Regions from separate parts of the Homo sapiens genome. Here all the other regions are linked to region 3. Evidence: fine-mapped expression QTL. A gene starts in region 3. Each other region holds a variant in brackets. All regions are shown on one strand. Distances are from middle to middle. Region 1 overlaps MROH2A (maestro heat like repeat family member 2A). Region 2 overlaps ATG16L1 (autophagy related 16 like 1). Region 3 holds the start of ATG16L1 (autophagy related 16 like 1).

Region 1 (10,744 bases), 540 kb after region 3:
AATATGGTATATTCTGGAGAATATTCCATGTGCTGATGAGAAACTAATGACGTTGAAATGTGACCTCAGAGTTGGAGGTGAGGCCTGGAGGGAGGTGTTCGGGTCATGGGGGAAGATCCCTCATGAATGTCTTGGTGCCCTCCCTGTGGTAATGAGTTCACATGAGAGCTGGCTGTTTAAAGGAGCCTGGCGCCTCCTCTGTCTCGCCTTCTCCCTCATCACATGATGCACTGGCTCCCCTTTTGCCTTCCACCATGGGTAGGCCTTACTAGAAGCAGAGGCCGGCAGCATACTTGCTGTGTGGTCTGCAGAACCATGAACCAAAATAAACCACTTTTCTTTATAAATTATCTAGCCTCAGGTATTCCTTTATAGCAATGCAAGAACAGACTAACACGGGCTTTTAAAAAATGTAGGCCAGGCGCAGTGGCTCATGCCACTTTGGGAGCACTTTGGGAGCCAAGGCGGGCGGATCACGAGGTCAGGAGTTCGAGAGCAGCCTGACCAATGTGGTAAAACCCCATCTCTGCTAAAAATACAAAAATTAGCCAGGCGTGGTGGTGCACGCCTGTAATCCCAGCTACCCGGGAGGCTGAGGCAAGAGAATTGCTTGAACCCGGGAGGTGGAGGTTGCAGTGAGCTGAGATCGTGCCACTGCACTCCAGCCTGGATGAAAGAGCGAGACTCCATCTCAAAAAAAAAAAAATGTAGGCTTTGTTTTTATTCAGCTATGATGAGACCAACAGCTCAGGAGACACTTGCTCTTGAAAGGACAGTTTATTGGCTGGGTATGGTGGCTCATGCCAGGAGTGCAAGACCAGCCTGGGTAACATAGCAAGACCACATCTCTAAAAAAATTAATTAATTGGGTATGGTGGCACCTGTCTGTAGTCCCAGCTACTTGGCAGGCCGAGATGGGAGCATTGTTTGAGCCCAGCATTTTTGAGTCAAGGCTGCAGTGAGCCATTTTGCACCACTGTACTCTAGCCTGGGTGACAGAGCGAGACTTTGTCTCAAAAAAAAAAAAAAAAAAGGAGAAAAGACAGTTTGTTACATTCCCAAGAGAGGGGGCCAACCATGCCATGCAGGGTCACACAGGGGAAGCACTAGGGTCTGTGAGGAGGCAGAGGGAGTCAGGGGAAATTATAGGCAACAGGCTTTATTGTGGTTTCTGTAGAAAGAAACTGGTGAGGTAGGGTAAGAAGGCTTAGAATTAGCTAATTTGAATATTCTCAGTGGACTCTGGGGCAAAGTAGCTGTCCCTGGCTGTTTGATACCTCCCCTGTGTGATTAGGACAGGTGGATAGTGGCCCAGAGTGTGAGAGCCCAATAAAGGAGGTGATTGGGAGAGGGGCTCTGTGTTGGTTGGAATACTGTGTTCAGGATGCCCTAATGGAGTACTATAGTATGGGTGGCTTAGAAAACAGAAATTTATTTTCTCACAATTCTGGAAGCTGGAAGTCCCTGATTGAGGTGCGATATGGTTTGGCTGTGTCCCCACCCAAATCTCACCTTGAATTATAGCTCCCATAATTCCCACATGTTGTGGGACGGAACAATTGGGAGATAATTGAATCATGGGGTGGTTTCCCTCATACTGTTCTCATAGTAGTGAATAAGTCTCACGAGATCTGATGGTTTTATAAGGGGTTTCCCCTTTCTCTTGGCTCTCATTCTCTCTTGCTTGCTGCCATGTAGAACATGACTGTGTTCCCCCTTTGTCTCCTACCATGATTGTGAAGCCTCCCAACCACGTGGAACTATGAGTCCATTAAACCTCTTTTTCTTTATAAATTACCCAGTCTCAGGTATGTTTGCATTAGCAATGCGAGAACAGACTAATACAAGGTGCCAGCAAATTTGGTTTCTGTAAAGCCTTGCTTCCTTGCTGGCTTTCTTGTGTGACTGCCCTCTCACTGTGTCCTCACGTGGCTCTCCTGTGCATGCGCACAGTGGGAGAAAGCACTCTTGTGTCTTCTGCTTCTTTTATAAGGGCACCAATCCCATGAGATTAGGGTCCCACCCTTGTGACTTCATTCAACCCTAATTACCTTTCGAAGGGCTCATCTCCAAATACTATCCCACTGGGGGTTAGGGCTTCAACATAGGAATTTTTAGGGTACATTATTCAATCTGTAACAGTTGTTTTGTACTTAAAAAGCATGCTGATGGACAACTTGTTACTATCTCTAGGAACTGGCTAGCTCTGGGAGGAGTAGTCTCTCTAGGGTCAGCAAGGACCCAGGTGCCAAAGCATCAGGAAATGAAGAAAATAAGAAACCATGATTAACACACAGGTCTTAATCAGTCATCAGTGGCAATAAACAGACAATAAACAAATAGGCACATTTTAAAATTAACATGCATCAAAGATTTTATTTTCTCCTTAACTAGTTAAGGAACTAGTAAGATGTTAAAAGCTGTTCAAATGAGAATTTTACCTGTGCTTTACCAGACAAAATCCATTTGCACTGCCATGAACAGGAATCATTTTCATTCCTATGTAGGAAACACGTGCATTGTTATCAGTTTTCTAGGATTTAACTTTTTTCCCTACAGAGATGTAAAGTAGCCTTGGCAATCACAGATGCACACTCTACAGAATCCAGTAATTCCACAGCATCTGCCAGACAGAACCAAGCTCTGCTCTGGAAGGCCACTCAGTGATCGCTTTTGTTATTTCCAAGTCTTTGACAGTTTTTCTCTTGTGACTATAAATATTCTCCGAAGATTATTCTTGATCACAAAAAAGGCTGATCTTCTTATAATTTGCCTGGCTATTTGTACAGGGTGCAGTAAGAGTGTTAATTAAGCATATTGGCCTCCTTGAGTTTACTGTGAAAATCTAGAGCTTGCATTCTCAATGGGGTGATATTGCCCCCCAGTTAAGTAAAACTAGTTCTTGGGGGACAAAGAAAATTTTACTTTTTCATTATAAAGCATGGATATGTATAACACACACACACACACACACACACATATGTATATACATATACATATATATTATATATATATACACATATACATATATAATATATATACATATACATATATATTATATATACATATATATTACATATATCATATATACATATATATTATATATACATATATATTATATATATCATATATACATATATATATTATATATTATATATATCATATATACATATATATTATATATATTATATATATCATATATACATATATATTATATATATTATATATACATATATATTATATATATCATATAAACATATATATTATATATATCATATATACATATATATTATATATATTATATATATCATATATACATATATATTATATATATCATATATAATATATATTATATATATTATATATAATATATATTATATATACATATATATTATATATACATATATATTATATATACATATATATTATATATACATATATATTATATATACATATATATTATATATATACATATATATTATATATACATATATATTATATATACATATATTATATATACATATATATTATATATACATATATTATATATATACATATATATTATATATACATATATTATATATATACATATATATTATATATACATATATTATATATATACATATATATTATATATACATATATTATATATACATATATATTATATATACATATATATTTTATATATATATAATATATATTTTATATATACATATACATATATTATATATATACACACACATATACATATATATGGCATTAAAGTCTCGTTGGGGTGTGATTAGGAAAAAAGTCTAAATGTCCTTGGGAGTAATAATAATAATAATAATAATAATAATAATAATAATAAAGATTGAGAAACACTGGTCTTGAGCCACACAGCACTGAGCAGCTACTAAGGCCACATCATTAATTTCTGGGAGCTGTCATAGGGATTTCTGATTGGAGTTTTACAAATCCCTATTATTTGCTATCCCAAAAGTAGGAAACCAAGACCAAGACTCCCTGTACTGGATTTCACCAGTAGAACTTACACATTTGGGTGAATTCCTCTCTTCTTAAGGTCCCCAAATTTGCTAAGGATTCTGGACTGTTGGGAGTGACCTCCCTACCACCAGAGGAGGAAGGACATTTTTTCCTGAGGGCTTTGCAGGCAGTGGCTCCACCTAGAAAGTAACCCTCATTCCTTAAGAGTGGCTTGTCAGCCGGGCGTGGTGGCTCACGCCTGTAATCCCAGCACTTTGGGAGGCCGAGGCCGGCAGATCACGAGGTCAGGAGATGGAGACCATCTTGGCTAACACGGTGAAACCCCGTCTCTACTAAAAATACAAAAAAAATTAGCCGGGCGTGGTGGCGGGCGCCTGTAGTCCCAGCTACTCGGGAGGCTGAGGCAGGAGAATGGCGTGAACCCGGGAGGCAGAGCTTGCAGTGAGGCGAAATCGCGCCACTGCACTCCAGCCCGGGCGGCAGAGCGAGACTCCGTCTCAAAAAAAAAAAAAAAAAAAAAAAAAAAAAAAGAGTAACTTGTCATGCCTGATTAAAAGTATTCTCAAATACGACCCTCCAGGTGTGATCTGGGATGTGCAATCTATCTGCCCAATCCCATCCTAAACCAGGTCATTTTCAGTGGTGATAAGCGCTATCATGCAGGAATTGGAAGAGAGTAAGAGGCAATTTTCCTGGGCCCACAGACTCCCTCAATAGGGCAAAGGCAAGGTGAGCCTGCCTTCTTTGGGCTTTCAAGATGGCCAATGCCCCATGCATAGAGAACCTTGTGTGTTGATCACTTAACACCTGCCTTGCCAGATATTTACTGAAATCGGGCAGGAATACAGATACGCAAGTCATATTGACAGGGCCAGTGGGATGAGAAGGGCAGGAGAAGCGAAGCAGGAGGATTTAGAAATGGAGGAATGGGGATCTAAGATTTGTGTGTTTGGAGGCTGGTGGTTTGGGTGTAGGGAAGGAGGACAGTGGGAGAGAGAGGTGGACTTGTGCTGGGGGCAGGGTGAGGTCCATTCCACCCACCATACTTGTTTCCCAGATTTCCACCCAGCGCAAGGTCAACATTTACAACATCCTCCAGGACATCATCCAGCAGGAGGGGGAGCTGGAGGAGCAGTGCGTGCAGAGGCTGGTGGCCATTGCCTCCAAGGAGATGAGGGAGATCCCAGAGGTAGGACCCCAAGCTCCATCGGTGCCTTCCCTCTGCCAGCCCAGGAGCTGGGCCACGGGGGGCCTGGCCCAGGATGCCCACAGCCCTGTGCAGTTACCTCTCAGAGCAGGGGTAAGGCTGAGCCCAAGGGAACCAGGAGGGGTGGAGAGAGCCTGGGGTAGGAAGGTTTTCCTGGAGGCCCGGCTGGTGGTGGTGCCATATGTCCCTCTTCTGTCTCCTGCAGATGGAGGGCTATATGAAGGCAGAGGTGGCCAGCGACACACTGGTGGCTCTGTCCCGAAACCACTTCAGCTTGGTCATGTACGAGCTGCAGCACCACCTCAAGCCCCTCAACCTCACTGATGAATTTGTCATCATCACACTGGCCAAGCTGGCCAACGGCAATGGTAGGGGCTTGAGGGCCCTCAGCCGGGCCCAGTGTGCCCTTCTGGTCTCTGCCTCTCTCTGCCCCTCCCATCTATCCCTATGTTCACCTCTTCCTCTTACCTTTCATTTCTCTCTTTTTCCCTCTAAAATTGATTCATTTTGTGTCTGCAGTCCTTTTGTCTCTTAGCTGTTAAGATTCTGTGTGTTCTGTCTCTCATCCTTCTTCCCCCTCTCTCCTGCTCCCCTCCACCTGCATTGTTCTGTCTTTCCATCTCTCTTTCTTTTTTAATTTCCTTCCTTCCTTCCTTCCTTCCTCTTTCGTTTCCTTTTTTATT[G/A]CCTGCCTTACTTACTCCTTCCTCTCCCTCCCCCTTTTTCTCCTTCTTCCCTCCCTTCCTCCCTTCCTCCATCCCACCCTTCCTTCCTCCCCTTTTCTTCTCTCCTTCCTTCCTCCCTCCCCCCCTTCCTTCCTCCCTCCCTCCTTCCTTCCTCCCTCCCTCCTTCCTTCCTTTCCTTTTTAATTGCCTGCCTTACTTACTCTTTCCCCTCCCTCCCCCTTTCTTTTTCTCCTTCCTTCCTTCCTTCCTCCCTCCCCTCCCCTTTCCCTCACCTCCCCTCCCTCCCTCCCCTCCCCTCCCCTCCCCTCCCCTCCCCTCCCCTCCCCTCCCCTCCCTCCCTCCCTCCCTTCCTTCCTTCCTTCCTTCCTTCCTTCTCCATCCTCCCTCCCTTCCTTTCATCCCAGAAGCATGCGCTGAGCTCCTACTCCATGCAGGCCTTGTGGCAGGTACCTGGCCACTACAATACATAAGACACACATGGCTCCGGTGCTCAGAAAGGACCAACAGGCAAACAAGGAAATAGACGTTTATAACAGGAGGTGACGGGTATGAAGAGAGCAGCCAAATGGGCGTTTGAGATCTGGCTAAGGGAGGGGACCTCATCTCTGCAGCCCTTGTTGAGGTAGCGATATTTCAGCTAAGACCTGAAGGCAGAGAGGAGGATGTCTGTGTGAAGCATAGGACCGGGAGAGCATTCCACACGGAGAGAACATTGCAGAGGCTCTGGGGCAGAGAAGAGCTTGGAATCTCTGAAGAGTTGAGAAGTGGCTGTGGCTGGAGTTAAGGAGTGAGAGAGAGATGAGGGGGAGCGTCAGGCAGGGCCTTGGGGACGTCACCTCGGGCACTAGGAAGCTATCGAAGGACATTAAGCTGCAGGGTCGCCTGGTGAATGCAGGTTGTGGGAAGGCCTTTCTGACTGCTGCCTGGATGGAGAGTACTAGGAGGTGGGTACTTGTGATGGTGGCTGGGCTGGGAAGCATGTGGTGAGGGGTGACAGGTGGGAAGGGGCTCTGAGACGGGACCTGCTGAGGACGGGGGAAGGAGCAGAGGTAGCAAGCCACTGGGAGCGTGTTGGCCTCCTTTCCCGAGCTAGAAGCACTGAGAGTTGGGAGCTCAAGTGAAGAACTTCATGCTGTGTGTGGAGCTCATGTTGCCTGTGGGAGCCCCCAGGGGAGAGGTGAAGGGGGCAGTTGATTTGTGGCGCGGAGTTCAGAGGGCAGGTCTGGGCTTGGCTTTGGTTCTTGGTGACCTCAGAGTGCAGGTGATGTTCAAAGCCATTGATATCCGGGAGTGAAAGTAGAGAGAGGACCCAGCCCGGAGGGGTCCTGGCATTGGCAAGGCTCGGGAGGAGTCGTAAGAGACAGCGTGGAATGTGAGGCCTGGCACAGGGAGAACAATCTCAAGGGGTGCAGGCCCCCGTGATGCCCATCCTGCCAAGGGGTCCAGTGAGATAAGGCTGGAGAAGGCGGGAGGTGGAAGAGCTTCACGGCTTGCTGGGGATAAAGGCCTGGATGGAGTGGGAGGGGAGGAAGGGAAGGCAGGCCTGGAAAGAGGACAAGGGACAGCAGCGAGGGGGATTATTATGAAGTCTGAAGATGGGGGTGCACTCAGGGTGGGTGAAGTGGAGGGGCCTGCCTCCTGTTGCAGGGTGGCCTGTTACGGCTCCCTTCCTTCATCCGTCTGCTCTTTTTCTCTGCTGGCCTCGTGCCTTCTCTCAGTTCCTTGCTCTCACCTGCTGTCTCCCTGCTTCTGTGTTCGCCCAAGAACGTTTGTGGGACCCCTGAAGGAGGCTGGCCTGTGTCCGGGAGGATGGACGCACTCTGGGGGCTGCTTCTTTCTGCTTCTTGCCCCTCCTTCCCTGGGGCTCCTCTGTCCTCTCTTCCCTCCCTCTCTCGGACCTCCTCTTCCTTCTCCTGGTCCTCTCTCTTCTTCCCTTTCCTCCCCTTTTGCCTGGCTTTCTTCCTGTGTCACCTGCTTCTAGCTCACTTTTTTTTTTTTTTTGAGATGGAGTCATGCTCTGTCGCCCAGGCTGGAGTGCAGTGGCGCGATCTCGGCTCACTGCAAGCTCCGCCTCCCGGGTTCACGCCATTCTCCTGCCTCTGCCTCCCGAGTGGTTGAGACTACAGGCGCCTGCCAACACGCCCGGCCAATTTTTTGTATTTTTAGTAGAGACGGGGTTTCAACCGTGTTAGCCAGGATGACCTCGATCTCCTGACCTCGTGATCCGCCCACCTTGGCCTCCCAAAGTGCTGGGATTACAGGCGTGAGACACCGTGCCCTTCTAGCTCACTTTTTAATGCTTTTCTGACTCCTGGACTATTTCCTGGGCCCCAGCCAGGACAGAGGGCTAAGCCAGCTCTGGACTGTTAGGGGTTGGAGGTGGAGGGCAGCAGGGTTGTCCTCTCTGCCTTCTCTCTGCTCACCCCCAGCCCCAACTTCCTGTAATCATCCCTCACAACCTCACAGTGTTTGAGTTCATGCCATACATGGGCATCACCCTGGCTACCATATTCACCATGCTGAGACTTGCCAATGAAGCCAAGATACGCCAGGCGATCTGCAGTGGTGAGTGTCCCACTTGAGCCTGCAGGTCTGGCTCGATCAGGGCGCCGGAGGGAGACTGCTGGGTAAGGAGCAGATGGAGGGGTTGTTGAAAAAGAGGTGCACTGTTCACTTGTTCTCCAAAGGAGTTTGCTTAATCTTTTACTTCGTGTGGCCTCTGATTGGCTGCCTGGGGCACAAGAGGCTGAGACATGGTGGGGGCCTTTTAGAAGATCCCGGCTTAGAGGGAAGAAGCTGCAACGGTGACTCCATTTAGCTTGCTTTGTAATTAAGCACTTCAGTTCATGAGACCACAGAACAGCAATGAGCATTCACAGGAGAGGGAGACCGGGGAAAACGGCTCCATGTGGAGCTTGACGGGGACTGGTCTTAGATGCTATTTCAATCTGATCACCTTGCCCCAGATTTTGATTACTTAATGTTCTTGTGGGCTTATAAAAAGCCCTAGTGCCTGAGAAAAAGAGGGCCACATGTGTTCACTGTTCACTGCCCTCTGACCTGGAATCCCCAGGATGTGGGCAGGGTCATACTCCAGGCCTCGCCCTTGACCCCGTCTCTGTCCTTGAAGGAGAGGGACCCAGACACCCCCGAGTGCTCAGTTCTCACACACACAGGCACGCAGAGTAAAAATGAAGGTGCTGTGGGGGGTTGGAAGGGCAGGGTGCAGCCTGCTCGCTACGGCAAGGCATGAGCACTTCCACTCGGGAAGCTGGGCTGGGAAGGCTTGGTTCTGCTTCCAGCCCCTCTGGCGCCAAGTGCATTCCCCTGTTGCTGTTGGTAGCCATGGAGACCTTCTGTGAGACGGTGCAGTTTTATCTGAAGCACCTGGAGGAGAGCGTGTACCCCGTGATGACTGAGGAGGAGTTTGCCCTGAAGGTGTTCCCCATGTATCGCTACTTCGTGACAGTGTGGCTGAGGCACTACAACCCCGAGGTGAGATGCACCCCTCTTAGGAGGGCCTGGTGGTCCCCAGGCCACAGCTCCCCAGCCTGTGGGGCCGGGAGGTGCTGAGGGACCGTCGGGTCCACACTTACTCCCAGGACCCTAGAGGGCAGTGACCTGACTCATGGCAGAGCCGGGGAACTCATGGATGCTGAACAGCTGGGACCTAGGAGCCTCATCCACGAGGCCAGGCTTGATGAAGGTTGGTGATAATCCTGAGAGCACTTGTTACATGCTGGGCACTCTACCAGCGTCTTACCCATGGGAGCTATTTTCACACCCACTCTGTGATATAGGACTAGTTGACAAATGAGGAAACTCAGGCACAGAGGGGTTAAGTACCTGCTCAAGGTCATGTGGCTGCTAAGTGGGAGGGACTCAAACCCGGCCGCCTGTGCAGGAAAGACCTTGCTCTGCTTCTGAGGCGCCTTCTGTCCTGTGTCCTTGGATTCTGTGGCTGGGGCTGAGGTCACTGGCCTTGCTGGAGGGTGGTGAGACAATGCGTCCCAGAGCTGGTTTCTGGTGGCAGGTGAAGCTGGGGGTGATCAAGTCCCTGAAGCCCATGCTCGGCCTCCTTCTGCCCAACGATGACCTGCGGGAGCAGGTCTACGACTACATCCCCCTGCTGCTGGCGGAGTACCAGGGCAGTCTGGAGGTGCTCTTCGTCACGCAGGCGAGTGGCCAGGCAGCCACGGCTCTGGGCAGGAGGCTTAGGGAATTGGGGGCTCCCAAGTGTTTAAAGGGGATGAGTGGGAGCCGGGGGGATGTCAGATATTTTGACACTGTGTCAGGAACCCGACATCTGTGCCCTGCGAGGGAGGGGCGTGGAGCCTGGCACCCGTGGGACTCATGGGAATGAACACTGCCCTTCCGGGTGGAAGGGACCAGGTGCTGGTCCCTCGGAGGCTGCAGTGAGGCTGTGGCCTTTGCATTAGTTTGTTAGGGTTGCTGTAACAAAGAACCACACATGCGTAGCTTGAAGCAACAGAGATGTATTCTCTGTACGTCCTGGAGGTCAGGAGTCCAAACTCAGGGTGTCGGCAGGGCTGTGCTCCTTCTGAAGGCTCTAAGGAAGCAAGCTCTCTTGCCTCTTCCAGCTTCTGGTGGCCCCACATGTTCTGTGACTGTGGCAGCATCACTCCAATTTCTCCCTTCCTCATTGCGTGGCCTTTCCCTGTGTGTCCCTCTGTGTCCTCTTCTTACAAGGACACCTACCCAAAATCCAGGATGATCTCACTTCGAAATCCTGAACTAATTCCATCACAAAGACCCTATTTCCAAATAAGGTCACATTATCAGATTCTGGGCGAGCCTGAATTTTGGAAGGACACCGGTCAACTCAAGGCAGCCTTGGTAGAGGGGT
Region 2 (5,000 bases), 43 kb after region 3:
GTGTTTTACACATAGAAAAATGTTGATCATGCACTGCATAGAGGTCAATGATGAATGGTAAAAGGTCTGAGTCCTCAGATCCCCTCCCGGCATCCCAGTTATCCCCAGCTGCCTCTCCTCCATCGCACTTCAGAAGTGCTGCGATGGGCAGAAGGGCAGCTGACACTCCGTGATGTCCCTCATTCTGTGTTCCTCCGTGAGCTCAGGGAAGACACTGGTTGGCATCCAACAGCTTAGTCACAAAGGGATTTGATTGTTGGGAGTGCTGGTATCTGTGGCTATGATCTGCCTTGTTCAAGCTGAGACCTCTGATTGAAAATCCCCCAGGGGTTTTAATTGTTTACATAAGGAGTCCTGATGTTTCCTTTTGTAAATTATGCCTGTGGTGACCTTGTCTAGTCTGACTTTAAATATGGAACTGACTTTCAGCAGCATGGCGCAACATCGAGGCTTTAAAAATTCTTTAATTTGATATAATTCAGACATAGAAAAATTACAAAAACAGTACAGCAGGTATCTGTGGTAGAGCTGATTTCAAATTCAAGATTGAGGATGGGGAGCACGTGAAGCTTGGTGCTAGTGATGTTGAATTTTTGTTTTTAATGTTATTTTTAGTGGGAGTTTTATCCTTTTGGTCTTGATACCTCACCTTTGGCCAACACTCAAAGATAGGCTTCCTATGAGATACATGGCCCCTGGATAAGACTCAGTGAATGAAATTGTTGCTTCTTGTCCTGTTTGGGATGTGTGTGTGTGTGTGTGTGTGTGTGTGTGTGACAGGATCTTGCTATCACTCAGGTGGAGTACAATGGCACTATCATAGTTCACTGCAACCTCAACCTCCCAGGCTCAAGCAATCCTCTTGCCTCAGCTTCCCAAGTAGCTGGGACCCCAGGCGCATGCCACCACTCCCTGCAAATTTTTAAAAAAATTTTTTTGTAGAGATGGGGGTTTCACTGTGTTGCCCAAGCTGTTCTTGAACTCCTGGGCTCAAGCAGTCCTCACACCTTGGCCTCCCAGTGTGCTGGGATTGCAGGCGTGAGTCACTGTGCCTGACCTGTTTCTTTTTCCTTTGCTGTCTTATCGCTTTGAGTGTTCCTGGCCGGATCTCAGGGTGGTCTGACACTCTGACTCTGGAGGTAAGGATGCTGTGGATACTTTGCCAGCATAGGCAGGGCCTGGCGCCCTGAGGCTCACCCTGGCTGTGTTCTCTCTCCTAGCACACACTCACGGGACACAGTGGGAAAGTGCTGTCTGCTAAGTTCCTGCTGGACAATGCGCGGATTGTCTCAGGAAGTCACGACCGGACTCTCAAACTCTGGGATCTACGCAGCAAAGTCTGTGAGGAAATTCAGTCTCTCTGTCTGTGTATATGCTTAGATGTTAGCGTGGAGGTGTGTGTTTGCACGTCAGAGCCTGCATTTATGTAATATAGTTTGAATTTCAGATCTGGCTTCATGTTTAGAGGGGCACTGAGGATAGTGATAGTTTTTCTTGTTTAAAGCTTCATTTAAGTGAGTAACTCTGACAAGTCAGTGGTTAGAGGGTGGCAGCATTATGTAAACAGCCACGTTGGTGCCTCTGCTTGATTAATGATGTTTGCATTTCTTTCAGGCATAAAGACAGTGTTTGCAGGATCCAGTTGCAATGATATTGTCTGCACAGAGCAATGTGTAATGAGTGGACATTTTGACAAGAAAATTCGTTTCTGGGACATTCGGTATGATACCCAAGCTCCTGACTGGAGGCACATAAGAGTCTCCACAGTAATGGTTCTGTACATGGGTTGTGCTTTTAAGATCTCAGGACATGGCAGAAATGAGTTTCGGTACACGTATAGTGTTAGCTTATTAACACTTGGCTGTTCTTTCCCATGAAGTAGACTGTGGAGCTTAGCAATCATTTATTGAGCATGCAGTGAGTGCTAGGCCCTTCACCAGCTGGCAGGTAAGAAAAGGCAAACAGGATACTCTTTCTACCTTTAGGTAATTTAAACTGTAGTAGGGAAGGCAGAACGCAAAAGTCAGTGACTAGTGTGTTGAAGTGGAGGCAGCTACGTTTGTTCCAGTGTGTTAAAGAATGCCTCTCCAGATTTCTCCGGAGACGTGAGTAGGATTCACACGGCAGGAAAGCCACTCAAACTTTTGAGTGTGTGTCTGGTGGCTGATACATGGCAAGTGA[G/A]CAGGAAACAGGGCAGAAGCCAGTGAGGGGGCTATGAGGGGTTGAAATCAGGTTGCCACAGGCTTGATAAGCCATTGTCAAATCACTCGATCTTGTAAGTCGTTGGGTGTTTAGCAAGGAAATGGTTGCTTTGCAGGAGTCTAGTAGACGACTTTGGTGGCATTTTGAGAGGGCATATTAGGGAATAGGAAACCAATAGAGTTGATAAGGACCTAAGTTCAAGTCAGTAGAGGAACATGTGGAGGAGAGAATCTATTTGAAGGAGAATTTGGACAGGGCTTATTGACAGGTTGGAGGAAGGGGAAGACAGGATGGAGAGTAAATGAGGACAGCCTCCCAGCAGGGTTGTAGAGAGGGTGGGGGTACAGGGCCTGTGGTGATAGATGATGCTTTGAAACACAGCATGGCACCAGAAAGTCCTGACAATGCTCATGGTTCCTGGACACCACTTCACATTTTATTCATAATCTTTAGTTTGCTTTTAAAACCTGAAATTGGAACTTGAAAGATGGAATTTGAGAGTTAAGTTGGATGTTCGAAGTCTCTTAGTCCATCCCATAATTTGACAGGTGAAGACCCTGAGTCCCAAGGAAGTGGAGTAGCTTGCTTCAAGCTGCATATTTAGCAACAATAAGATAAATTCTTGCTTAGTTAAGGTGGGAGGTAGGAAAAGGTTTCATTGAAAGCCTACAACAAAATCATCACAGAACAGGTCAGCACCCCCTTTGGCTATGAATGTCACCAACAGGGCCCTGCCCAGGGTGGCTGTTAGCCACCCTGGACATGGGCCACAGCACAGAGAAGAAGAGGGAGGTGCGTAGGGCCGTGGCTCTGCCCTGGCTTTCCTGGCCCCATATCTGGAGGTGGAGGGCCACAGAGCCACAGTGAATAGGGCAGAAAACCTGCAAGAGGCTAGAGTTACACTTACAAGGCAGCCCAGGCCCACTAATGCAGGTTTCTTTGCCAACTTTATCCAAAAGTTGAAATCACATCACTGAAAATAATACGAATTGGGTAGTAGCCCTAGTTAGCTCATGCTGATCAGAAACCGATGGGCGATTGTTGTCATTCCAAAAATGGATGAGGAAATTCTTACCAACTTCAGAGTTCTAGTCTGGGAATGACTGTCTTAGGGTCTGTTGATGGGAAAGTAAGAAAAGCAGTCACAGGTTATTAGAAGACTGGGAACACATTGACTGCGCTGGCAGAGCGTTGCATGCTAGTTGAATTGCAGTGCCTTTTTTTTCCTCCACGGCATGATGTGAAGTAGTTCTGGCCTACGTTACATTTCTCAGATCTGTTCTCCCTCTTAGATCAGAGAGCATAGTTCGAGAGATGGAGCTGTTGGGAAAGATTACTGCCCTGGACTTAAACCCAGAAAGGACTGAGCTCCTGAGCTGCTCCCGTGATGACTTGCTAAAAGTTATTGATCTCCGAACAAATGCTATCAAGCAGACATTCAGGTAACTGAAGATGTGCTGGTTGCATGAAGACCAGAGGCCCAGCCCTGCTCTCTTAACGTGCTGCGTGGCCTGAGCTCCCTCAGTGACAGTGCCCTGTTGTTTGTTTCAGTGCACCTGGGTTCAAGTGCGGCTCTGACTGGACCAGAGTTGTCTTCAGGTTAGTAGTGACCCACCCCCCGCCAATTTGGTTCATCACAAAGAGTCCTGCATGGGCATTTTCCCACTGGGGATATAGAGCTAAATTTTGTTCAGTGCCCAACCTATGTTTCCAGGAGTGTGCCTGTAAGTTCATAATTGCAGGCCACCATTATTGTCTCTTCCTTTCCAGTGTTCCTTTTGTGATTACATGAACCTAACGTGTTGTACCAAAAAATAACAGTTGGCTGGTTGCTTTGTTGTGGGTGAGCCCATTAGGTTCACTTCTCATCACTCATTCACGCAAGAGCTGTTGGAGAGCCTTTAGAAAAGGGCAGGAGTGGCCGTGGGCCTGGGGCGGGACTGAAAAGGCTTTTTGGAGAAGGGTGTGCAGGTGGTCTGCAGTTTTCTGCTCCTTGTTCCCTTCTTCCATGTATCCTGCTTCTTCCAAATACCTTTCCAGGCTCAGTTGCTAAGATGTTTCTTTTCTTCCCTCCTCTCTTTGAGGCATGTAACAAGGCAGTCCATGGGCTGAAACCCTTAGCTATGTGGAGGTTGGCTTTGATCTCCCTATATGTTGTTTTGTTGAAGTCTGTAGATGGTTAAGGACTTGGAGCCCCAAGAAGCAATGTGATGCCACTGTTCATTAGCCGGACGGGGCTGAAATACTGGGGAAAAGCAGATTTGGCTGGAAGGGCCATGACTAGCACACATTCTGAGGTCTGGGTACACAGGAGTGGTCATCAGTGAAGAACAAACATTCCTTCTTGGGAAAAAGGCCACAGAGATGCTGAATTGGGGGTGGGGAATTGACAACCTTTCTTTTCTTACTGTCTTCTGTAGCCCTGATGGCAGTTACGTGGCGGCAGGCTCTGCTGAGGGCTCTCTGTATATCTGGAGTGTGCTCACAGGGAAAGTGGAAAAGGTTCTTTCAAAGCAGCACAGGTAAGATGAACCCTGTCTCAGCCCCCCGTTGCGTTGTGAGCAAGGCCTTTGACTTCATCTCAGGGGTCATCCGGTTTAGACCTCAGTCGGCGCTGTGAGGGCACTGTCCGCCCACCTGCTCGGCTGGCTGAGCTAGGTCAGTGGAGAGAAGCTGGGGCCACTCACACAGCACAGCAGGCCACAGTCTACAGAGTACGCCAGGTAGAGCGGTTAGAGTGGCAGCCGCTGGAGAAAGGGTTATAGAAACACATCCCTGACTCTTTGGTTATGTCCACG
Region 3 (10,318 bases):
GACTTAGTGACTGTCATTTTGTCTGCGCAGCCCTGGTCTTTTCTTAGGCTTGCCTGCTTGTATTAGTCTTGGGTGGCGAGTGAAGATAATAGCTCAGTGTAAACTAGCTTAAGTGACCTGCGGGACTGTGTTGGCTCAAGTCCTGGTGGGGAGAATAGGGCTGGGCTAGTTGCAGGACTGGCTGGAACCAGGGACTCTAACTCCATCAGGGCTCCTGGCTTCTCATCTCTACTTCTCTCTGTAGGATTGTTCCATTGTTTTCAGACTGGCCTTTTCATGAGACAGGGGACACAGCCACTAGCAGATCTAGATCTAGATCCTTAGACTTCACAACCAAAGAAGAAAAGGGACCCTCTCCCCTGGATCCACTTTAAAAATTCCTGTGGAGGATGGTGACTGAGAAGCGTTCCTATGCCTACCCCTGGGGCCAATTTGTTGCAGGAAGGGATGGAGAAATACCATTAACTAGCAGGAGGGTATAATCTGTTACCAAAAGAAAGGTGGAAGGCTGGGCCCGGTGGCTCATGCCTGTAATCCTAGCACTTTGGGAGGCCAAGGCGGGTGGATCACTTTAGGTTAGGAGTTTGAAACCAGTCTGGCCAACATGGTGAAACCTTGTCTCCACTAAAAATACCAAAATTAGCCAGTCAGGTGGCACGCATGCCAGTAATTCCAGCTACTCAGAAGGCCGAGGCATAAGAATCGCTTGAACCCGGGAGGTGGAGGCTGCAGTGAGCCAAGATCTCACCACCGCACTGGCGACAGCCTGGGCAACAGAGCGAGACTCTGTCTCAAAAAAAAAAAAAAAAAGAAAAGAAAAGAAAGAAAGAGAAAGAAGGAAGGAAGGAAGGAGCGGGGAGGGAGGGAGGGAGAGGGAGATTGAGAAAGAGAGAGAAAGAAAGAGCGAGCTAGCCAGGCCAAACAGAAGATGTGTTCTGCCTGTCCCTTCTGGGAGCTGCCCCTTCCCCTCCATCCAAAGGAAGCTGTCCTGGAAGACTGGCCTGCCCCTTTGCCACAAGGATTCTTAGATACGGGCACCTGCTGGTCCATCAGAGTCTTCTCCCAGGAATTGAGAACTGGAGCTCAGAGGCGCCAGCTCTGTTTGGCTGCTTGTGTGTACTGAGGAGCTTTCAGAGGAGCTATTTCTTTACCTCGAGGATGGGAGAACCGCGAAACACAAATGGCTGGGCCACAAGACAAGAGAAGAAGGAAGCAGCAAGCCATGGAGAAGCGGATGCAAAGGGCTGAGCACGCTGGCTGATCTGCATCCTGGTTGCAGTGATTCCTGGGATCCAGCCACATCTCTGCTGCCAGTCTCTGCAGCACACTGAATCCAGACAATAACCCCCCTTTTTCCCTTAAGGTAGCTCATATTGCACTTCTTTTGCTTGCTATCAAAAACATTCTAACTGATACACAATCTCAACCTAAAACAGTCTCAGCCCTCATAGCCTGACACACAGCCAGTAGCATGGTGAAGCAGGTGAGTTCTGGCACCAGGCTTCCTTGACTGTATCTTAGTTCTGCTTCTTCCTAACTTGTGACACCAGACACGTTGCTCTGCTTCTTCCTAACTTGTGACACCAGACAAGTTACTTTTTTTTTTTGGATGGAATTTCACTCTTGTCTCCCAGGCTGGAGTGCAATGACACAATCTTGACTCACTGCAAACTTTGCCTCCCAGGTTCAAGTGATTCTCCTGCCTCAGCCTCCTGAGTAGCTGGGATTACAGGCGTCTGCTATCATGCCCGGCTAATTTTTTTGTATTATTAGTAGAGACGGGGTTTCACCACGTTGGCCAGGCTGGTCTTGAACTCCTGACCTCAGGTGATCTGCCCGCCTCACCCTCCCAAAATGCTGGGATTACAGGCATGAGCCACCATGCCTGGCCAAGTTATTTAACTTCTATATGTCTATTTCTTCATCTCCAAAAAGGAAATATTAATATACCTACATTATCGTGTTGTGAGAATTAAATAAGTTGATCCACGTAACACAGTGCCTGACATGTAAAAATCACTCCATAACATTAACTATTATTTGTAGTGGGAGATTGCAGTAGTGCCTAGGAGAAATTTTATCATCTCTTTAAAGATCAAAGAAACAAACCAAGGAAGATAGCCTCCCCACCTCCACCACGGATCACATTCCCAGCTTGCTAGAGGTGTCATGTTGAATCCTCTGGCCGGCATTCCAGACACCGGCTGCCAATATGCAGAGGAGATAAAGATCTCCAAGAAAGTTGAAATGTTACTAAAATGCTTGTACTGTAGTATAAGGATAATAACACTTCCTCAGACATCATTTTAAAAGTATGAAATTTGGCCAGGCATGGTGGCTCACACCTGTAATTCCAGCACTTTGGGAGGCCGAGGCGGGTGGATCACTTGAGGCCAGGAGTTCTAGACCAGCCTGGCCAACATGGTAAAACCCCGTTTCTACTAAAAATACAAAAATTAGCCAGGCCTGGTGGCAGGCACCTGTAGTCCCAGCTACTCAGGAGGCTGAGGCAGGAGAATTGCTTGAACCTGGGAGGCAGAGGGTTGCAGTGAGCTGAGATCGAGTCACTGCACTCCAGTCTGGGCAACAGACTAAGACTCCATCTAAAAAAATAACAAAATAAAAAATAAATAAATAATATGAAATCTGCCAGGCAAGGTGGCTCATGCCTGTAATCCTAGCACTTTGGGAAGCTGAGGCAGGAGGATTACTTGAGCCCAGGAGTTTGAGGCCAGCCTGGGCAACTTAGTAAGACCCGGTCTCTACAAAAAAACAAAACAAAACAAAACAAAAATTAGTCCCAGCTATTTGAGAGGCTGAGGTGGGAGGATCGCTTGAGCCTGAGAGTTTGAGGCTGCAGTGAGCCGTGATCGCGCCACTGCACTCCAGCCTGGGTGACAGATCAAGACCCTGTCTCAAAAAATGAAATAAAATAATATGAAATCTGAGTGTCAACATATATACGGAGTGAAGGACATGACCTGCATGTGGTTTAATCTATGTACACAGAGATTCTTTATAATGAAAATTTCCTGCCGTGTGCATATATGTGTATACACAAAAGCAACGACCCTAAAAAAAAAAACAAAGAAAAACAAGGAGCAAAAGAGCCAAGTAACATATGCCTATAAGGGGGCATTGTTATTATCATATTAAGAAATGAGGTTTGGACCCGGCACAGTGGTTCACGCCTGTAATCCCAGCACTTTGGGAGGCCGAGATGGGCGGGTCCCTTGAGGTCAGGAGTTCGAGACCAGCCTGGCCAACATAGTGAAACCCTGTCTCTACTGAAAATACAAAAAATTAGCTGGGCATGGTGGCAGATGCCTGTAATCCCGGCTACTCGGGAGGCTGAGGCATGAGAATTGCTTGAACCCAGGAGACGAAGGTTGCAGTGAGCCAAGATGATGCCACTGCACTCCAGCCTGGGTGACAGAGTGAGACCTTATCTCAAAAAATAAAAATAAATAAATAAATAAATAAATAAGGTTTGGAAGGCTCAGTGGTGTGTCTGGAAACCTGTGTTAGTTGGTTTCTTGACTATCCTTTGGTTTACTCTAGCAGCTATCGGGTTTATACAGCAGTTAACACAGTAACACAGTTAACTTAGTTTATTTTCACTTTGAGTAATATAATTTTGGGAAGAGCTGAAAAGGAGTGGAAATAAAGAAAGACTAAGATAATTTTTTAAAAGAATAATAGGAAATGAGATTTTAAGAATAAAAGCTAGAGAAAAACCAACAGAAGATAATTGAATCCCTTTGGTACTGCCATCAGGCCGGCTCTTTGTACTTTATGTTCCTTGCACCCATAACTGATACGTGTTCCAATCTCCCTTCCTAGAGTGAATTCTTTGAAGTCAGGATGCCCATCCCTATGCCCAACCCACACTGGAATTGCACTGTTTTTTTAACCTGCTGAGTGGAAGGTAAAGGAAATCAGGAAGACCCAAAGGGCAGAGAAAAGAGTAAATAGGACAATAGTTTGAAGGTTGGCCCTTGAATTCCTCTGAATTGGAGCATAACTAGAGGATCTCACAGATGAGATGTGTAGGCATCAATGATGGAGGTGAGAATCTCTTGGAAGTTTTTAGCAGTGGAAATGCTGCCACAGAGGTGCTGTTATGTTAAAGCTGGTGGAACTTTGGTTCAGTGAAACTAGACTTTCCACAAAAAAAGTCCTTTGATAAGTGACGCCTTTTCTACTTCCTGTGAGCAAATTCGTGAGGCTTAACATATTGCTACAAGAATCTTGGGATATTTTACATTTATCTTACATCCATTATAGGCAGTCAGACTCCATTTCACAGATGCTGCTTCCCAGCAAAGCATGCTGAATCCTTTAGACAATCACTATTTACCAGAACAAATATAAAAACTCTCAAGATCTGTTATTTGTCACCAGAGTATTCAGACAACCTATTTCCTCCTCCTTCCTATTACTCATCCCCTGTATTACTCACCCTCCAGCCAGTCATTCCCCTCAGGGCCTGTGAACACACCTGAAGCCTCCCCATCACTGACTTTGCTCTTCACCAGGTTGCCCTCCCTATTGGCTAATTTAGGAGTGAGTCACATATTACTTAAAAATTATTCTGTTTCATGTATTCTAGTCCAGTCATACTGCAGTGACAGCCAGAACAGAGACTGGATGATGGAGTGCAGTGGTTAAAGGCACAGATGCTAGAATTAAATTGCCTGTATTTGAACCCAGGTCTTGCCACTTTACTAGCCAGGTATCCTCATGCAAGTTACTTAACCTCCCTGTGCCTCAGATTCCTCGTCTGTAAATAAGGATGAAGATGCTACTGAGCAGGATTATTGTGAGGAGGAAATGAGTTATAATATGTGAAATACTACTCAGAAGAATGCACAGCCCGTAGCACTGTAGAAGTGTTCCTGCTTATTTGTGATCTCCCAGAGTCTACCATGCTTTGACATAAGTGGTTTCATCAATAAATATGTGTTTATTTCTATAACTTTTTTTTTTTTTTGAGACAGAGTCTCACTCTGTCGCCCAGGCTGGAGTACAATGGCACAATCTCGGCTCACTGCAACCTCCACCTCCCGGGTTCAAGCGATTCTCCTGCCTCAGCCTCCCAAGTAGCTGAGATTACAGGCGCCTGACACCACGTCCAGCTAATTTTTTGTATTTTTAGTAGAGATGGGGTTTTGCCATGTTAGACAGGCCGGTCATGAACTCCTGACCTCAGGTGATCCACCTGCCTCAGCCTCCCAAAGTGCTGGGATTACAGGTGTGAGCCACCGCGCCCGGCCCAACTTTTTCATGCATATGTAGTATATATATATATAATGTCTACCTATTAGAAAATGCATATAAAATACACATATAAGAAAAAAACCCAGCAACACCACTGCCTACAGATAATACTATTATCAGTATTTTCACATATTCCATTCATTAATTAAATAACATTTACTGAGCACCTAATACATAAAGGGCTTCATGCTCTTGCTGGAGATATAATGATGTGCAAAAACAGACACAGCTCTTGTCTCATGGAGTTTACAGTCTACTGGGGGAGACAGACCTTTATCAAGTAATGATACAAATACATGTGAACCTATAACTGGGATCAATGCTATAAAGGAGAGGTACACGCGTAACAGGGAGATAAGATCTGTAACAGGTTGTGAAGGTCTCTCATCCTACTGTTGCGAGGAAGTGACTACTGAAATGAGAACGAACACACAGAAATTAATTTGGAGAAGTCAGAAGGGAAGATGTGCCCAACACAGTAAATCCAAAGGCCCTGCAACGAGAGGGAGCACGGTAAGCAGAAGGAAGTAAGAGGCTTCAGCGTGGCTGTGGTTGTGTGCTAGATAAAGCTGGTGAGTTAGGAGGAGGGCAGGACTAGCAGAGCTTCATATTCTTTCTTTAGAAATTATTCTTCATGTGTTCAACAAATATTTGTCTATGATGAGCTAGGGACATACTCATTTTACATAAATTATGACATATACTGCTGTTACTATCAACAATTTCCAGCAATAAATGTACAGTAATTTAACCAATCTCTTATTGTTGGAAATGTAGATTTTTTTCTCCAACTTCTCATCATTATTATAAACCGCAATTACTTTTACACCAACCTAAAAACAATTCTGCAACAAAGATTTTTGTATGTGGACATGTGTCCAAATATTTCTTGGCATAAATTCCTGCAAGTGGAATTGCTGGTTAGGCAAACTGCAAATTTGTAAACATATTTTTATATATATAGAGAGAGAGTCAGGGTCTTGCTCTGTTGACCAGGCTGCTGGAACACAGTGGTGCTATCACAGCTCACTGCAGCCTTGACCTCCTAGGCTCGAGCGATGCTCCCACCTCAGCCCCATCCCAGTAGCTAGGATTACAGGCACACGCCACCACACTCAACTAATTTTTTGTATTGTTGTAGAGACAGGTTGTGTCATGTTGCCCAGGCTGGTTGGTCTCAAATTCCTGAGCTCAAGTGATCCTCTCACCTTGGCCTCCCAAAGTGTTGGGATTACAGGTGTGAGCCACCATGCCCAACCTTGGAAACATATTTTAATCATAAATGTGGGAAATTAACATGCTCAACTGTCAAGATTTGGTGTAATGGTCTTTTAAGGGTGGTGCCACTGCTGCATTTGAAGGCATTCTCGGTCACTTTCAGAACTTTTTCATTTTCTTCAGCGTGTGAGGAAGTCACTTCTATTTCTGATCCCATTGGATCCTTCCAACGACTTCAGGTCCACTCAATACTGACTACCAGTGAACCATCTTCAACTACAGTGCTAGAAGCCTGACTGTCCTCCTCTCCTCAGCCTAAGTTCTTCTTATCTGTCTCTGAAGGACCTTCCTCTGGACTTGAGACACACTGGAAGAGAAGGTAGTTTCTGATATTCCTTTCCTCTTTTGGCCAACTACTTTGTCTGGCTCCATTTTCATGCAGTAAATTCACTAATTGTTAAAGGCAGATGGAGCTCCAGCAACTCTATTACAGAACTGGGTTTTCCATTCTACTGAGCTTGTTCACAGACACAACTTTCTCAGGAGCCAGTGTGTCTTCATCTCCCCCTTTCAACATCTACAGCCTCAGATTACCTTCTAAGGCTCCATTTATTGTCAGGCCACAATTTCTAGGATTCTAACAATGAAGACAAACTCTGATACACAATTCACATCTTTCTTAGCTCCCGTTTCCAGTTCTCTTCTCCATTGCAAACAAAAACAAAAACCCCAAACAAACCACAAAACCTGTTTCCAAGTTCAGTGGGACACTCTTCCCAACGCACCCTGACTTCAGGTATGTAAGAGTTAAGAAACAAGAAAGAAACACGAAAAGCAGCTTAACAATCAAAGACAGGTTTATTTTGGAGAATAAACCTGAGAGGGGCTTCTTGTCGATTTTGGTCAGGAGCGTTTTCTCTTACACACTAAGGGTGTTTAAGGGTTTACGAAGCGGTGAGCTTATTGCAGGTTCGTAATGTTTCTGTATGAGGGAAAGTTTATTGCAGGGTTGGAAAGTCTCTGGCCGGAGGGGAGGCTATCTCTGGGTTGGCATGTTTCTGGTTGGAAGTGGGTTTATCTTAGGGTTGGAATGTTTCTGGTTATGCTGACATTAGCCATTAGGCTGATGTTTTTGGGTTGGATTTAGGCAGTTTCTTAATCAAGGGGAACTTAAAATGGTGGCAGTTGTCCAAGATGGCAATGCTCCTGCTGTCAGGGTAGGCCTTGGGAAGACACCAGGTGTCTTTGTAAACTTAGGTTTCCCCTGTACCAAGCACAGTGCTGACTGCATTACATGGGTTTTTCTTTTTACTATTCGTGACAACCTTCTGAGGTAGGTATCATTACTGTCCCCATTTACAGATGAGACAACTGAGGCTTAGGTAGGCTGTCACTCATCCACAGCCACAGAGCTACTATGGAGGGAACCCCATTTGTTCCTAAACTGCGATTAAAAATAAAAGTGGGGGGAGACAGGCCAAGAAAAAAAACACGAAAAGGGTTGAAAAGCAGCAAAAGAAAAGTAAGCAGTCAGGCGGAAACGGCCCCTTTCCTGCCTCCTTCCCGCCCGGCGCTGGGCCTTGCGCAGGGCCCGGACGCCCCCAAGCGGCCACCTCTCTGCAGCTGACGCTTCCGGCTACAGGCTGGCGTCACTAGCGAGCGCCCTGCGTAGGCACCGGCTCCTGAGCCCGTGCTTCGGGTGAGGGGGCGGGTCTTCCGGCCCTCTCGAAAATCATTTCCGGCATGAGCCGGAAGACCGTCCCGGATGGCCTCGGGGACTGCCAGTGTGTGGAGGTGAGCTCCGGGATTGCCGGCATTCCCGCTTCTGCTGGTTGCTTCATGCTGCAGGCTGCGGCCGTCAGCCCTCGCTCGCATTGGTGGCGCTGAGGTGCCGGGGCAGCAAGTGACATGTCGTCGGGCCTCCGCGCCGCTGACTTCCCCCGCTGGAAGCGCCACATCTCGGAGCAACTGAGGCGCCGGGACCGGCTGCAGAGACAGGCGTTCGAGGAGATCATCCTGCAGTGTGAGCGGCGCCGGTGCGGGCTGGGAGTGGGGCGGGCGGGCCCCGCGGAGGCATGCGGGGCGTCAGCGGGAACCTGAGGCCGAGTCCCTGGCGCCGCCCGCACGCATGGCGGCCGCCCCGGGTAACCCGCGCTTGGGACGCCGCACGCCTTTTAAATGTTTTTTCTAACCTGCGTTTTATCTTTGGAGGATTTTCCCTATTAAATTGTACGATCTTTGTGGGGAGGCACAGTTCGTGTTTGTATTTGTAAATCCCAGTAGCTCATACAATGCTTATGCACTTAAATAGGTCCCAGAAACATCCCATCTATGGGGTCATGTTAATGAAACGGTCGTTGACTTTCAGTCGCAGAATTAACATTGCCTTCTCAATGCACTGGAACGGGTGGCCTTTGATTCCTCAAACTTACTTCCCTTACTCCACCTTGGTGGTTTTTTTTGCGGGGAAACGGGATAGGGGATCAGGGTCTTGCTGTGTCGCCGAGCCTGGAGTGCAGTGGCGGAGATCACGGCTCACTGCAGTCTCAAACTCCCAGGATCAAGTGATCCTCCCACCTAAGCCTCCCGAGTAGCTGGGATTACAGACGCGCTTCACCACGGTCGGCTAATTTTTTTAAAAAAAAATTTTTTGGAACGAGGTCTCACTGTGTTTCCCAGGCTGGTCTCCAACTCCTGCGCTCAAACGATCTTCCCACCTCGGCCTCCCAAAGTGCTGGGATTATAGGCGTGAGCCACCGAGCCCGGCCCCACCTTGGTGTTAATATCGTAATATCTTTTAGGCGGGACAGAACCTTTACTGTTACTGAAATCTTCAGTATGAAAGAGGTGGTTTTCTTTCCCCTTACTGCTTGCAGCTTAAGGGTACAAAAATGTTTGTACCTTTACCTAAATTATAATGGTCCTAAGGTGGTTCCATCTGCGTCTGAAAGTAAACCTGACGACTTTCTCAAGTTATGCTGTTGATGATATTCAGAATAATAATTGCTACCTTATATTGCATTCTGATTGTGCAAAATCAGTAGTTCTCAAACTTAGCTCCACATTAGAATCACCTATGGATCTTTAAAAAATTACAAATCCCAAGCCACACCCCAGACCAACTAAATCACAAGTATCACAGTACACAAGTATCAGTGTGTGTGTGTTTGTGTTTGTGTGAGATTAAGCCTAGAACTGCATGCCAAGTTATCAGTGTTTTTTGATGCTTCCCAAATGACTACTGTGCAGACAAATTTTAGTACTGTGGTAAGTATTTGCATGTGTTATTTTATCTTTCCCAAAATTCTGTGTATGAAGCAGGAACTGTTATTGCCATTTTCACACATGGAACTGAGGCCAAGAGAGATTAGGTAACTTCTGAGGTTGCACAGCAGGTTAATGGTGAGACTGGGTTTTTTTGTTTTTTTTTTTTTTTTTTTTTGGAGACAGAGTCTTGCTCTGTCACCTAGGCTGGAGTGCAAGTGGCGTGATCTCAGCTCACTGCAACCTCCACCTCCCAGGTTCAAGAGATCCTCCTGCCTCAGCCTCCCTAGTAGCTGGAACTATAGGCAAGCACCGCCACGCCCAGCTAATTTTTGTATTTTTAGTAGAGACAGGGTTTCACCATGTTGGCCAGGCGGATCTTGAACTTCTGACCTCAGGTGATGTACCTGCCTCAGCCACCCAAAGTGCTAGGATTACAGGCATGAGCCACAGTGACCAGCCGGGACTGGAATTTGAACTTAGGCTTGATGACTAACTTTTGCATTTGCTTTTCTCACTGGCTCCCCCAGCAAATGGTTCTTTGCTTTCACTGCAC

Evidence for each region. PIP is the estimated chance that this variant, and not a neighbour inherited with it, causes the effect.
Region 1: its variant is the best candidate, but not a certain one, in a credible set for the expression of ATG16L1 in caudate (GTEx, PIP 0.51).
Region 2: its variant is the best candidate, but not a certain one, in a credible set for the expression of ATG16L1 in monocytes after LPS (Fairfax 2014, PIP 0.72).

What each region holds. Positions count from the first base shown.
Region 1 is chr2:233,784,453-233,795,196 of GRCh38, forward strand. MROH2A (maestro heat like repeat family member 2A) reads left to right here. Exons shown (of 42, transcript NM_001394639.1): 4 at 5,045-5,176; 5 at 5,400-5,562; 6 at 8,344-8,442; 7 at 9,221-9,372; 8 at 9,911-10,054. Among named protein-coding and RNA genes, the nearest start is that of MROH2A, 11 kb to the left of the region's middle. The variant G/A (reference allele first, on the strand shown) is at 5,878.
Region 2 is chr2:233,288,634-233,293,633 of GRCh38, forward strand. ATG16L1 (autophagy related 16 like 1) reads left to right here. Exons shown (of 18, transcript NM_030803.7): 13 at 1,221-1,341; 14 at 1,615-1,720; 15 at 3,495-3,644; 16 at 3,754-3,801; 17 at 4,623-4,724. It also overlaps SCARNA6. Among named protein-coding and RNA genes, the nearest start is that of SAG, 17 kb to the right of the region's middle. RefSeq lists an enhancer at 51-552. The variant G/A (reference allele first, on the strand shown) is at 2,182.
Region 3 is chr2:233,243,422-233,253,739 of GRCh38, forward strand. ATG16L1 (autophagy related 16 like 1) reads left to right here and starts at 8,252. Exons shown (of 18, transcript NM_030803.7): 1 at 8,252-8,521. The coding sequence starts at 8,407. RefSeq lists enhancers at 3,860-5,059, 7,840-8,539.